Linked DNA regions of Homo sapiens. The protein of the gene in region 1 binds, or shares a complex with, the protein of each later gene. Each region holds a gene or a part of one and is shown in the gene's direction. Other genes may lie near its edges.

Evidence for each region. The genes of interacting proteins can lie anywhere in the genome.
Region 2: COQ7 (region 1) and COQ4 share a complex: the UniProt entries of both Homo sapiens proteins name them as parts of the multi-subunit COQ enzyme complex.

What each region holds. Positions count from the first base shown.
Region 1 is NC_000016.10:19,063,403-19,070,631, forward strand, and holds the start of COQ7 (NADPH-dependent 3-demethoxyubiquinone 3-hydroxylase, mitochondrial), read left to right. Parts: upstream 1-4,211; 5' UTR 4,212-4,262; coding exon 4,263-4,335; exon of another isoform or gene 4,336-4,428; intron 4,429-4,504; exon of another isoform or gene 4,505-4,606; intron 4,607-4,614; exon of another isoform or gene 4,615-4,828; intron 4,829-5,244; exon of another isoform or gene 5,245-5,445; coding exon of another isoform or gene 5,446-5,476; intron 5,477-7,229. UniProt on the Homo sapiens protein: Catalyzes the hydroxylation of the 5-methoxy-2-methyl-3-(all-trans-polyprenyl)benzoquinone at the C6 position and participates in the biosynthesis of ubiquinone.
Region 2 is NC_000009.12:128,317,899-128,325,838, forward strand, and holds the start of COQ4 (ubiquinone biosynthesis protein COQ4 homolog, mitochondrial isoform 1 precursor), read left to right. Parts: upstream 1-4,940; 5' UTR 4,941-4,960; coding exon 4,961-5,030; intron 5,031-5,117; coding exon 5,118-5,249; intron 5,250-7,244; coding exon 7,245-7,341; intron 7,342-7,880; coding exon 7,881-7,940. Other genes in the region: TRUB2 (pseudouridylate synthase TRUB2, mitochondrial), read right to left, coding at 3,701-3,832, 4,402-4,510. UniProt on the Homo sapiens protein: Lyase that catalyzes the C1-decarboxylation of 4-hydroxy-3-methoxy-5-(all-trans-decaprenyl)benzoic acid into 2-methoxy-6-(all-trans-decaprenyl)phenol during ubiquinone biosynthesis.

The sequences.
Region 1 (7,229 bases):
ATTAGCCAGGCATGGTGGCGTGTGCCTGTAATCCCAGCTACTTGGGAGGCTGAGGCATGAGAATCACTTGAACCTGGGAGGTGAAGGCTGCAGTGTGCGAGACCGTGCCACTGTACTCCAGCCTAGGTGACAGAGGGAGACCCTATCTCAAAAAAAAAGATAGGTGAAAAGAAAAAAAAAGTTGTAATTGTAAACATTTCTGCCCAGTGCCTTTATATTTATATAACATTTTCACTGTGACCAGACTTGATGATATTCAAGTTTTCTATTTGTGTGTGTGTGTGTGTGTGTGTGTGATGAACACAACGAAAACGTACTGCGTTTTTTTTCCTATTATAAAAGTGATACTGAAATATGCTAATTAATATATTAATTTTAGTTAAATGCTGCTAATATGCATACCTCTTACTTGAAGGTTTTTAATATGTTTTGATAACTTTAATAACTTCAGGTGATGTCTGTATAACTTTTAAAGTGCAGCTCTCTCTAACAAATGTGCCTTACAACTCCTGATTAAACGGCGTCTTGAAGGTTTTAAAATGTGATCGTGTATACTGGAATTCAAAGAGGCTTCTTGTCAGCAGTCAAGTGATGATGGAAAACTGTAATAGTTTGTAAAGTTCCTCTTTGCTTTTTCCTAAAATGAGAGAAAAGAAAGAAGTGTTTAATGTAGTCCTCAGATGAGTGCTTTTAAAGCTCCTTGGCTCTGTTGAAGCCAAGGAGGGTGTATGTGTGTAACTGCCCAACTGGTTCATTTTGCCCGCTGCCTGGATACAGCCCATTCATCAAGACAGAGGAATTGCAGCAGAGGAATTGCAACAGAGAAAGCGTTTGATACATGCAGAGCTGGCTAAACAGGAGACCAGAATATTATTATTACTCAAATCAGTCTCCCTGAAATTTTGGAAACTGGGTTTTCCTGTGTATGTATTTTCTCTCTCTCTCTCTGTGTGTGTGTGTGTGTGTGTGTGTTTGAGACGAAGTCTTGCTCTTGTTGCCTAGGCTGGAGTGCAGTGGGGTGATACTGGCTCACTGCAACCTACACCTCCCAGGTTCAAGCGATTTTCCTGCCTCGGGCTCCCGAGTAGCTGGGATTACAGGTATGCGCCACTACACCCAGCTAATTTTGTATTTTTAGTAGAGACGGGGTTTCTCCATGTTGGTCAGGCTGGTCTCAAACTCCCGACCTCAGGTGGTCTGCCTGCCTCGGCCTCCCAAAGTGCTGGGATTACAGGCGTGAGCCACCGTGCCCGGCCGTGTTTTTTTTTTTTTTTTTTTTTTAATATGTAGTCTCTATTGCCCAGGCTGGAGTGCAGTAGTGCGATCTCGGCTCACTGCAAGCTCTGCCTCCCGGGTTCACCATTCTCCTGCCTCAGCCTCCCGAGTAGCTGGGACTACAGGCGCCCACCACCACACCCGGCTAATTTTTTGTATTTTTAATAGAGACAGGGTTTCATCAGGATGGTCTTGATCTCCTGACCTCATGATCTGCCCGCCTCGGCCTCCCAAAGTGCTGGGATTACAGGCGTGAGCCACTGTGCCTGGCTGTGTTTTTTTTTTTTTTTTTTTTTGAGATGTAGTCTCACTCTATTGCCCAGGCTGGAGTGCAGTAGTGCGATCTCGGCTCACTGCAACCTGGGTTCAAGTGATTCTCCTGCCTCAGCCTCCCAAGTAGCTGGGACTACAGGTGTGTGCCACCATGCCCAGCTAATTTTTGTACTTTTAGTAGAGATGGGGTTTTGCCCTGTTGGTCAGGCTGGTCTTGAACTGCTGACCTCAAGTGATCCTTCCACTTCGGCCTCCCAAAGTCTGGGATTACAGGGGTGAGCCTCCGTGCCTGGCTGGAACTAGTTTTTTTAATGGATAATTTGGTGGGTAGGGGGATGGAATTAGGGAATAGTATGCATTTTTGTTTTTTAAATTTTGTTTTGCCATTATAAAAATACTTGTTTTTTATAGCAAATACAGAGAACATCAAAAGCAACAGAGAAAAAAACTTAAAAAGCAGCACTTATGGGCACGCACTGTTAATCCTGGCAAAATTCTTTTTAAGATAGAAAGTACAGAGGGAGGGAAAAAGAAGGAAAAAGAAGGAAAGAACTTTGGTATTCTAATTTCTTTTTCACTTAATATGTGTTTTCCTGAAGAATCTAGTGTTTTCTCCTGTTATTAAAAGCTCTTTACAAACATTTCAATGGGCTACATAACATCATACAGTTGGATTTTTTTTTTTTTTTTTGAGCCAGAGTCTAGGTCTATCACCCACTCTGGAGTGCAGTGGTGTGATCATGGCTCAGTGCAGCCTCAACCTCCTGGGCTCAAGTGATCCTTTTAGCCTCACAAGTAGGTGGGATCAGAGGCACACACCACCATGCCTGACTAATTTTTAAAATTTTTTGTAGAGATGGAATCTCACTGTGTTGCCCAGGCTGGTCTTGAACTCCTGGGCTCAAGTGATCCTCTCGCCTCAGTCTCCCAAAGTGTTGGGATTACAGGCGTGAGCCACTGCACTCGGACATGATGTTTTGATATTCAATTGTTGCTTAACATTTTGTTTCCAAATTTTCCCAGTAATAAATAATGGGCACATCTATAAATCTTTGTCAACATTTTTTCTCCTTAGAAACAGAGACCTAGGCCAGGCGTGGCGGCTCACGCCTATAATCCCAGCACTTTGGGAGGACAAGGTGGGAGGATCACTTGAGGTCAGGAATTTGAGACCAGCCTGGCCAACACAGCGAAACCCAGTCTCAGCTGGGCGTGGTGGTGTGTGTACCTGTAATCCCATCTACTTGGGAGGCTGAGGCAGGAGAATCGCTTGAACCCGGGAGGCAGAGGTTCCAGTGAGCCAAGGTCTCCCCACTGCAATCCAGCCTGTGCGACAGAGTGAAACTCCATTTAAAAAGAACAAAAACAAAAAACAAAACAAAAAGGAAACAGAGACCTAGAAGTGGTATTACAGCAAAGGTTTTGAACATTTTAAGGCTTTTGAGCGCCAGATTCAGACACTCAGTAGTTTTACATGAGAGTGCTACAACATCCTCACTAAGTAGTATTTGGGTTCATCATAATTTTAAATTATTTTGGTGTGTCAATTTGAACACTAGAGTGATATAAAAACTAAAAACTTGAATTCAATAATTTTACAATTGTATTCCATCTTAAAATATTTTATGGTAAACTTGGATAAAGTATATAAATAATCCAAGGGTGTAAAGTAGAAAGTGAAAGCTCCCTTCTCCCAGTTCCAGCCCCCTGATGTTGCCAATATTAAACGTTGTATATCCTTGCAGACACGCATCTTTGATTTTTGCCCTCATGTACATTACTCATTTAAAAATTATTTCGTTGAGTAGATTCCTAAAAGTAAGACTGCTGTATTATATGATCTTTTTAAAGTATGTTGCTAAATTTCCCCTCCCTTCTCAAAAAATTCCAATTTGCACAAATATACATGCATACATGCACACAGTACATTAAGGTGGATACCAAGGATAAAACATGTTCTCTGTTTCTGAAAATAGAGAAAAGACCGGGAAGAAGTTTAAAGTTGGCTTTCAGCCCACCAATAGAGATAACACTATATAACACCATTAACCATGTGGTGCATGTAATTTAGATATACATATAATTTTATTTATTTATTTATTTTTCAGACAGGGCCCAGGCTAGAGTGCAGTGGCAGAATCACGGCTGACTGCAGCCTCGAGCTACCGGGCTCAAGCTATCCCCCCACCTCAGCCTCCCGAGTAGCTGGGACTACAGGTGTGCTCCACCAGACCCGGCTAATTTTTAAAATTATTTGTAGAGGCGGGGTCTCGCTATGTTGCCCAGGCTTACTATTTTAAAGTAGATGTAGGATACAAATAAAAAAAAAAATCTCCTTCCACGTAGGTAAAGCAGGAAATACCGTGCCTTGTTAATAAGTAATTCCCTCATGATCCTTTTCCCCAGGAACTTGGGTGAGAAATCATAACCTTGTCCTGATCTTTCTAAACAGCAATTTAGCATTTTCATCTCCCTGGCAACCCAAGGCGCCTTGGCCTTGGTCTTCCGAGTGATTGACAGTGACCCCACCCAATAAAATCTTTTTATTTGTCGTATCTAACCAATCTAACCCCTAGCGCAGAGCTAGGGGGCGTTCCCACCGGTGCGCGGGCGAGCTGAGCCTTCCTTACGTCTGCTGTGCGTCATCAGTCCGAGCCAAGGGCACTATTGGCCAGTTCCGTTCAACGAAGTGGTTGCTTTTTTTAGTTCCGGCAATGAGTTGCGCCGGGGCGGCGGCGGCTCCCCGCCTTTGGCGGCTGCGCCCGGGGGCCCGGCGGTCCCTCTCAGGTAAAAGGAGGCGCGCAGTCACAGTCCTGCGCCGGTCTAGCGAGCTAGGGAATTTTCGCTTGAGGTTTGGGTCGAAGAGGTCACGGGGGAGAGGTTCGTAACGTCACAGGCCTGCGACGGAGCGCGACTGCGTGACTTCGGCCTCCGGGGCGCTGGCGGGCGGGGCGGGGTCTGTAGTTAGCGGCGAGAGTGACAGGAGGACAGGGGTTGTTTCGGCAGTGACGCCTGGGGAGTGACGCAATTGCACCCCTGTGCAGTGATGTCACGGCAGGTGCGGCCAGCGTTCCGAGTCGAGGACAGTTGGCGACACTGAAAATTCAGCGTCTCCGGGAGTCTCTCTCTTTGTAGTCTTTGCCCAGGGCCTTGCCAGGCAAAGGGTAGCCCGACGACCAGCAGCCTCCGCTACTTCTGGGCGCTCGCTAGAAATACAGATTCTCGGGCCCCACCCCGACCTACTTGGTCGGTATCTGTGATCTGTGAACAGGACCTTTAGGTGATTTGCATGCACTGTAAACTGTGAAAGCCATCAGTGTAGTGGAAGGAGCATCGAATTTAGAGTAGAGAGACATGGTTTTGGACCCTGGTTCCTGCTTTCCTTGTTTCATCTGTGCTGCCTTAGAAAATTGTCATGAGCCCGGGCGCGGTGGCTCCGGCCTATAATCTCAGCACTTTGGGAGGCCGAGGCTGGAGGATCCCCTGAGGTCAGGAGTTTGAGACCAGCCTGGCCAACATGGTGAAACCCCGCCTCTACTAAAAATACAAAAATTTGCCAGGCGTGATGGCAGGTGCCTGTAATCCCAGCTACTCAGGAGGCTGAGACAGGAGAATCGCTTGAACCCGGGAGGCAGAGATTGCTTTGAGGCGAGATTGCACCACTGCACTGCAACCTGGGCGTCAGAGCGAGACTTTGTCTCCCCCGCGCAAAAAAAAAAAAAAAAAAGAAATTTCATGAAGTCGTTTTCTCAACGTTAAATTACCGTGTACCACTTTCGGGATTTTTGCCTAATGGCAGTACTGCTTGAACTTTTGATTACTAGATGTGTTTTTTTGTATAGCTATGTCCCATTTAAAAATTAAATTAATTTCCTTGAAACAAAATCCTTATGGTGAATGGGAAGCCAGTGCCACTTGCCACAAATGGGTGAGTAATCATTAAAAAAAAACAAACAAATTAAAAAGTTATGAAATTGTATTAAATACTGTCTTTCTGTTACAAAGGGGAAATTAGCAAGTGTTGGGAAAGTGTTAAGGCTATACCAGCTGTAAATGGAGTTATCTTCCTTAATGAAAGAGATTGCAAGAGATTTTGAAAGAGTACCCCTTACTACATGGGGTTATTTGCTGCATATCCATAAGCCACTTAATATTTTGTAGGTACCACACTGGCATGTTTCACACTTTGGGAAAATATGGACATAAAGTGATGCATTTGAGAGCTAGCACCGAGCCTCAATTTTACTTTAAAGTATATGGTAATGCAGGCAAAACTCCGAGGGTTGTTGAATGTGAATTTTAATGCTGCTCTGTTCAGCCAGTGAGCATAACAGAATAAGACTCATTTCTGTTTATAAAGTTACTTTGCTTCTTATATCTTATTTTATCCTCATAACTCAGTAAGAAAAGTTTATTATTGTATGTTTTCCCTTAAAAAGGAAAGAGCCTGATTATTGCCTTTTTTTTTTTTTTTTTTTGAGGCAGAGTCTTGCTTTGTCGCCCAGGCTGGAGTGCAGTGGCGCGATCTCAGCTCACTGCAACCTCCGCCTCCTGGGTTCAAGTGATTCTCCTGCCTCAGACTCCCGAGTAGCTGAGGCTGCATGCATGCACCACCACGCCTGGCTAATTTTTGAATTTTTGGTAGAGACGGGGTTTCGCCATGATGACCAGGCTGGTCTCGAACTCCTGACCTCAAGTGATTCTCCCTCCTTGGCTTCCCAAAGTGCTGGGATTACAGGCGTGAGTCGCCGCACCCAGCCAATTTTATATGTAAGAAATGTCGATCCTGATTTTCCCAAGGCTAGTGTTAGAGATGGGACACATGTTTTATGCTTCTTTTTTTCTTTTTTTGAGACAGAGTCTCACTCTGTCACCGAGGCTGGAGTGTAATGGTATGATCTTAGCTCACTGCAGCCTTTGCCTACTGGGTTCAAGTGATTGTTCTGCCTCAGCCTCCTGAGTAGCTGGGACTACAGGCACGTGCCACGATGCCTGGCTAATTTTTATATTTTTGGTAGAGATGGGTTTTCACCATTTTGGCCAGGCTGGTCTTGAACTCCTGGTCTCAAGCAGTCCACCTGCCTCAGCTTCCCAAAGTGCTGGGATTACAGGCATGAGCCACCACACCCGGCCTATGCAGTCTCTTTAGTCAGATATGCTCAGTGAGATGGAGAGGATCATGGCGAGGAGTAGACCAAAGCTGGGTCACTATGCTTCAGAACTTAGGTCCACGCTTCTTTGTTAAAAGTGTGACATTTACAACCCCATCTGGTAGAAGATTTCAAGTTCAGAGCCACCCCAAATTTCACCAACCCACCTCACTACCTTGTGTCCAAAGCACTCAAGCCTTTGTCATGAAAGAACCACATATGTATCTAAAATGAATTTTTTCCACATATTCGCTGGCTGTTGAAGTTAGCCTAAGTGAAAAGAAGTTTGCATAAAAGACATGGTAGTCACGGCTAAGAGCCCTAAAACATTACAAAGTGATACCAATGCTGGCTGGGCATGGTGGCTCACGCCTGTAATCCCAGCACTTTGGGAAGCCAAGGTGGGAGGATTGCTTGAGCTCAGGAGTTCGAGACCAGCCTGGGCAACATGGTGAAACCCCGTCTCTACTAAAAATATAAAAATGTAGCTGGGCATGGTGGCACCTGCCTGTAGTCCTAGCTACTCTGGAG
Region 2 (7,940 bases), on another chromosome or scaffold:
TAATAGAGTCATTGAATATCACAAGTCCAACGGGTTTTTGAGGTTTCTGGTCAAACCTCTAGATTCCCTGACACATGCCTTAATCACATCTAGTGATGGGGACACATTACCAGAACCAGTTCCATTGTTGGGCAACTTTATTCAGTAAAAAAATCACTCTTTCGGCTGGGCGCAGTGGCTCACACCTGTAATCCCAGCACTTTGGGAGGCCAAGGTGGGCGGATCACCTGAGGTCAGGAGTTCGAGACCAGCCTGGCCAACATGGTGAAACCCCATCTCTACTAAAAATACAAAAATTAGCTGGGTGTGGTGGCACACACCTGTAATCCCAGCTACTTGGGAGGCTGAGGCAAGAGAATAGCTTGAACCTGGGAGATGGAGGTTGCAGTGAGCTGAGATCACACCACTGCACTCCAGACTCCAGCCTGGGCAACAGAGCAAGACTCTGTCAAATAAATAAATAAATAAACTTATTCTTTCCCAGAAACCCAAAACCCCTACCTTAGGACTTCTACCTAGGGTCTCATTTCTCACCTGGAGTCCCAGAATAGAAAAAGGGTCAGCAAACTACAGTCCACAAGTCAAACCTGAAGACTGAAGACTGTTTTTTTTTTGTGTGTGTGTGTTTGCTTGTTTTGTTTTGTTTTGTTTTGAGATGGAGTCTCACTTTGTCACCCAGGCTGGAGTGCAGTGGCGCCATCTCAACTCACTGCAACCTCCACCTCCCAGATTCAAGCGATTCTCATGCCTCAGCCTCCTGAGTAGCTAGGATTACAGGCACCTGCCTCCATACCTAGCTAATTTTTTGTATTTTTAGTAGAGACGGAGTTTCATCATGTTGGCCAGGCTGGTCTTGAACTCTTGACCTCAAGTGATCCGCCTGCCTCGGCCTCCCAAAGTGCTGGGATTACATGAATGAGCCACCGCATCTGGCTTGTTTTTTGTGGCCTATGAGTTAAGAATGGTTTTTGCATTTTTCAGTGGTTCAAAATAAATCAAGAGACCAGTTGCAAGGGCTCACGCTTATAATCCCAGCACTTTGAGACGCCGAGGCAGGCAGATCACTTGAGCCCAGGAGTTCAATACTAGCATGGGCAACGTGACAAAACCCCATCTCTACAAAAAATACAAAAATTAGCCAGGCATGGCCGGGCGTGGTGGCTCACACCTGTAATCCCAGCACTTTGGGAGGCCGAGGCGGGTGGATCACGAGGTCAGGAGATCGAGACTATCCTGCCTAACATGGTGAAACCCCGTCTCTACTAAAAATACAAAAAATTAGCTGGGCGTGGTGGCGGGCGCCTGTAGTCCCAGCTACTCGGGAGGCTGAGGCAGGAGAATGGCGTGAACCCAGGAGGAGAAGCTTGCAGTGAGCCGAGATCGTGCCACTGCACTCCAGCCTGGGCAACAGAGCATGACTCCGTCTCAAAAAAAAAAAAAAAATTAGCCAGGCATAGTGGCCTGTGCCTGTAGTCCCAGCTACTCGGGAGGCTTAGGTGAGAAGACTGCTTGAACTCAGGAGGCAGAGGTTTCAGTGAGCCGAGATCTCACCACTGCCCTCCAGCCTGGGTGACAGAGTGAGACCCTGTCTCTAAATAAATAGAATACTACAGTTGTCCCTTGGTATCCAAGGGGATTGGGTCCAGGATCCCTTGCAGATACCAAAATTTGTAGATGTTCAAGTCCCTGATATAAAATGGCATAGTATTTGCATATAACCTAGGCATGTCGTCCCATATACCTTTTTTTTTTTTTTTTGAGGCAGAGTCTCACTCTTTCACCCAGGCTGGAGTGCAGTGGCACGATCATGGCTCACCACAACCTCTGCCTCCCAGGTTCGTGCGACTCCTCGTAACTCAGCCTCCTGAGTAGCTGGGATTACAGGTACGTGCTATCATGCCCAGCTAATTTTTACTAGAGACGGGGCTTTGCCATGTCTTGAACTCCTGACCTCAAGTGATCCGCCCACCTTGGCCTCCCAAAGTGCAGCGATTACAGGCGTGAGCCACCACACCTGGCCACTTTTTTTTTTTTTGAGACTGAGTCTCGCTGTGTCGCCCAGGCTGGAGTGCAGTGGCACGATCTCCGCTCACTGCAAGCTCCGCCTCCTGGGTTCACGCCATTCTCCTGCCTCAGCCTCTGGAGTAGCTGGGACTACAGGCGCCCACCACCACGCCCGGCTAATTTCTTTGTATTTTTAGTAGAGACAGGGTATCACCGTATTAGCCAGGATGGTCTCGATTTCCTGACCTCGTGATCCGCCCACCTCAGCCTCTTTATTTTTTTTGGAGACAGAGTCTCACTCTGTCACCCAGGCTGGAGTGCACTGGCACAGTCTCGGCTCACTGCAGCCTCTGAACTCCTGGGCTCAAGTGATTCTCCCACCTCAACCTCCCGAGTAGCTGGAACTACAGGCATATGCCACCCCACCTGGCTAATTTTTTTTTTTTTTTGAGACAGTTTCACTCTTATTGTCCAGGCTAGAGTGCAATGGCACAACCTAAGCTCACCGCAACCTCCGACTCCCGGGTTCAAGCAATTCTCCTGCCTCAGCCTCCTGAGAACCTGGGATTATAGGCATGTGCCACCACACCTGTCTAATTTTGTATTTTTAGTAGAGACGGGGTTTCTCCATGTTGGCCAGGCTGGTCTCGAACTCCCGACCTCAGGTGATCTGCTCGCCTCAGCCTCCCAAAGTGCTGGGATTACAGGTGTGAGCCACTGCACCCGGCCTTTTGTATTCTCTTGTAGAAGTAGGGTTTCCCCATGTTGCCCAGGCTGATGTTAAACTCCTAGGCTCAAGTAATCCACCGCCTCAGCTTCCCAAAGTGCTGGGATTACAAGCATGAGCCACCAGGCCTGGCCTTCCCATATATTTTAAATCATCTCTAGATTACCTTTTTTTTTTTGAGACGGAGTCTCGCTCTGTTGCCAGGCTGGCGTGCAGTGGCACAATTTCGGCTCACTGCAACCTCCGCCTCCCGGGTTCAAGTGATTCTCCTGCCTCAGCCTCCTGAGCAACTGGGACTACAGGCGCCTGCCACCACTCCCGGCTAATTTTTGTATTTTTAGTAGAGACGGGGTTTCACCATGTTGGCCAGGATGGTCTCGATCTCTTGACCTCATGATCCACCCTCCTCGGCCTCTCAAAATGCTGGGATTACAGGCGTGAGCCACCACGCCTAGCTAGATTACTTATAATGCCTAATATAATGCCTATGCATCACCTTGAGTGGATTCAACACAGTACTAGGTGCACAGCAAATTCAAGTTTTGCTTTTTGGAACTTTGTGTTTTTCTTCCCAAATACTGCCAATCTGAAGCTGGATCATGGGATGTGGAACTCATGGACTCAGAGGCAACTGTACTTAGTGACACGTGAAAATTACCTGAAGTTCAAATATGAATATTCATAAAGTTCTATTGGAATACAGCTAGGCTCATTCCTTTAGATACTGTCTATAGCTGTTTGGCACTACATTGGCAGAGTTGAGCAGTTCCAACGGAAATCACATGGCCTGAAAACTAAAACATTCAGTATCTGGCCCTTTCCAAGGAAATCTGCCAATTCCTGGTCTAATACCTCACTCCTCTGTGGACCTTCAAGGGCCTGGCACAGGAATCTGAGCACTGGGACACTGACTCGGCTCAGGGATTTCCTGGGAAGTGACACACAGGATCCTGCTTAAATCTGCCTTACCCAGTGGATGGTTGATGAAAGAGGGTACGCTGGTGGCTGTGAGGGTCAGCTCCTTCTCTTCGCTGCCTTCCATGGGGCCCAGCAAGAAGCGAACACGCTGTTTAGGAGCGGGAGGCTTCCTGGCATTGAGACCTGAACACACAGAGATAATATATACACACATACATACAAATATATGTACATATAAAATATTTTTTAAGAGACAGGGCCTCGTTCTGTAGCCCAGGCTGAAGTGCAATGGCGCCATCATAGCTCACTGTAACGTCAAACTCTTGGGCTCAAGCGATCCTCCTGCCTCAGCCTCCAGAGTAGCTGGGATTACAGGCGTGCACCACGATGCTGACCAGGAATATCTTGTTCTGTCCAAACACTTGGGGGATTAGACAACAGGGAAGTATGATGTAGAAGACAAAGCAGAAGCCCATGGTGCAGAGGGCAGTATAGCAGTAGTTAAGAAACAGGCGGATTCAAACAGACTCTACAACGTAGTAACCGTGTGACAAGGAACAATACTGAGTCAGTTTCCCCCTCGGAAAACAGAGGAAAGTGAGGAGTAAGAAAGCACAGAGAACAGGCGTTTGGGAAAGCGCTCTGCCCAGGTGAATAGGTCACGTGATTTTGTTTTGGGGTAAGGACCAGAAGCGGAGATGGACTTCCAAGAGAACGAGAGCGGGAACGTGGGTCTGGTTCGAGGCACTCACCCTTCAGAAGTTGTAGCTCCACTGTATCCCGCAGGTGCTTCCATTTTAGCCCCGGGGGCTTATAGACCGCGAAAAGCCCATGCAGCCGCGACAAGCCAGCAGACCCCATACTTGAAGATCACAGCACCCGCTGGACCTGGACGGAAGTACCGCCAGGCCCCGCCCCCAAATGTGGTCCTTTCCACGGGCGCCGCCATGTTCCACAGCCGGAAGAGGTTCGCATTTTATAGTCTTCGGGGAAAACCGGCTGTGGAGAAGGAAATAGGGCCCGGCGCTGAGTGAGCGTGGTTGCGTGTCCTTTGCAGACACTTTCTGGGGCGAGGTGACATGGCGAGAGTCTTGGATCGGTGGACGTAGACGGTAGACAGTTCGCGTGCGTTTCCTTCGCCTACTTGGCCTACATGCCTTCTGCCCGTGAAGCGATGTTTCCCCTCGAAAGGCCGTAGGCTACGCCGTCAGAATCGGTTTTTCAGTGAGTTTTGACCCCTCCGACGCTCCGTCGCCTGACAGAATCGCGGCGTTCTTCGTACCCGCCCATCCTCCGCGGACGCCCGCTGCCATGGCGACTCTGCTGCGCCCTGTCCTCCGTCGGCTCTGCGGGCTCCCGGGCCTACAGCGGCCTGCGGCAGGCAAGTGGCGCCGGGTTCTGGGCGCAGGCGGGAAGGAGCCTGAGGGCGCCCGGCTCCTCTGACCTCGGCCTTTTTCTTGCCCCGCAGAAATGCCCCTCCGGGCTAGGAGCGACGGCGCCGGCCCGCTATACTCGCACCACCTCCCCACCTCCCCGCTGCAGAAAGGGCTGTTGGCCGCCGGCTCCGCGGCGATGGCGCTCTATAACCCCTACCGCCACGGTAAGGCCGCCCGCGCCTCGCCCCCGTGGGGGCGGCTTGGAGCCGTTTCCTGTGGGTAACTGGAACATAGCCTAGGTCGGGGTACCCAAACCTGGTTGCAGCTCGTAACCACTCGGAACGTTTATGAAAATGCAGATTCCTGGATCCCACCTAAACGCACTGAATCTGAATCTGAATCTGCAGTGGAGGGAGAAATGGGCGTGAAACCGAAAGTCTGTCTTTAAACTACTTGGGAGAATCTGTCATGCAGCCATATTGAGAACATCTAGACTAAATAGATGATTCATAAGTACCGATCAGTTTATAATATCCTACTAGAAAGTCAACTCCGAGGTCGAGGACCATGTCTGCCTCGTTCCACTGCATCTGCAGCCTTCTGGATAGTGCCTGGCACATAGTAAATGCTCAATAAATGTTTGCTGGATGTGTGACTAGAACATTCTAGGGTTCTACAGTGTTTTTCTTATGCCTCCTAGATTTTTGAGTTCTGGGAAGTACTGTTATTCCTACTAACAAAAACAGGCTAGGCGCTATTATAGTGGCTCACGCCTATAATCCCTATCGGGGGGCCGAAGCGGGCAGATGGCTTGAGCTGAGGAGTTTGAAACCAGCCTGGGCAACACGGTGAATCCCCATCTCTACAAAAAAAAATACAAGAATTAATTGGGGCTGGTTGCATGCGGCTGTATTCCCAGGCTGAGGTGGAAGGACCATTTGAGCCGGGGAGTTCGAGACTGCAGTAAGTTGTGATTGCGCCATTGCACTCCAGCCTGGGCGACAGAGCGAGACCCTGTCTTAAACAAAAAATACACTATATCTCCATGTCCCCAGTGGTTTTTTGTTTGTTTTGTTTTGAGACACAGTATTGCTCTGTGGCCCACGCTGGAGTGCAGTGGCGCAATCTCAGCTCTATGCAACTTCCACCTCCCAGGTTCAAGCGATTCTCGTGCCTCAGCCTCCTGAGTAGCTGGGATTACAGGCCTGTGCGGCCTGGCTAATTGTTGTATTTTTAGTAGAGACGGGATTTTGCTATGTTGCCCAGGCTGGTCTCAAACTCCTGACTTCAGGTGATCCTCCCACCTCGGCCTCCCAAAGTGTTGGGATTACAGGCATGAGCCACCACGCCCGGCCAAGACCAGCGAATTTTTTAATTTTTTTGTAGAGACGGCGTCTTGCCACGTTGCCCAGGCTGCTCTGGAACTCTTGGCCTCAAGTGATCCTCCTGCCTCAGCCCCCCAGTGTTGAGATTACAGGTGTCAGCCGCTACACTTGGCCACTAAGTGTTATATATATATGATTTTCATGGTTTCTCACATTAACCAGCTAAGAAAGGTGTTGTCTGCACTTCACAAATTAAGACACTGAGGCTGAAAAATGTGAAGCAGGCCAGGCATGGTGGCTCACACCTGTAATCCCAGCAATTTGGGAATCCAAGGTGGGAGGATCACTTGGGGCCAAAGTTCAAGACCAGCCTGGGCAACATAGCAAGACCTCATCTCTACAGAAAATTTAAAAAACTAGCTGCATGCCTGTAGTCCTAGCAGTGAGCTATGATCACACCACTTCACTCCAGCCTGGGCAACAGAGCAAGACCCTGTCTCAAAAAAACAAAACAAAACAGAAATGTGAAGCAATTTGTACTAGGTCACCTAGATAGTGAACACACCTGGACTGTAGCCCAGCATCTCTGATGCCTAAGCCTCTACCAATCAATGGAGACATGATATTGTATTGTGAAAAGTGATTTATAAAATCTTTACAACGTTGTGCTAACTAGAGCTGTCCCGCCCCAGTAGATTAAGAATAAGAACTATAGATATGTATACTGATCCCTTGTTGTGTGCTGGGTAATTTGCTAAGTGTTTAGCCTGAATCCTTATAACAAAGAGCTAGACATCATCCCTAATTTATCCTGTAGGAAACAAAGGCTCAGACCAGGTCAGCTAACTTACCTAAGATGACATCCCCCATTTGTGCCCGTTTCTGTCCTTTCAGACATGGTCGCAGTTCTAGGGGAGACCACAGGACACCGCACCCTGAAGGTCCTCAGGGACCAGATGAGGAGGGATCCAGAGGGTGCCCAGATCCTGCAGTAGGTCCCAGCTCTGCCTGGGGGTCTGGGGGCATTCTCTAGGTATTCTGACCTCTCTAGAATCACATTGTGTTTGTTCTGTTCCGCTAGGGAGCTTTTGATACCCTGGCTACATATGGTTGCACAGGCTGGGCACTGCCCAATTCCAGGGGTGTCATTCACATACATGTGTATACACTGATGACTTCCGAGTTGTGCAGTGTGATAGCCTTGGCCCAGTTTCAACCACAGGGCTCTGTGCCTTCATTAAGTTCCCATAACATGTGCTGGCTTTACCCCTCCCTTGCAGTACCTTTTGCAAGTACTCTGGTCACATTCGAGGACTGTCTTCCTGCCGAGATTGTACCCCTGCCCATGTCCTTGGTTTGGGGTAGTATCCTAAGTCCCTGACACTAGCCTGGCCAGTTGTAGGTGCTCCATTAAGGCTTGTGGTGGCCACATTGCTCCTCTGTACATTCTCCCGCCCCTCAGCTCGCTGTAGTTGGATCGTTCACCTACCTTTGCCCACACCCTCCCAATGCCCAAGTCTTGCCTTTCAGGGAGCGTCCCCGGATTTCGACATCCACCCTCGACCTGGGCAAGCTCCAGAGCCTGCCGGA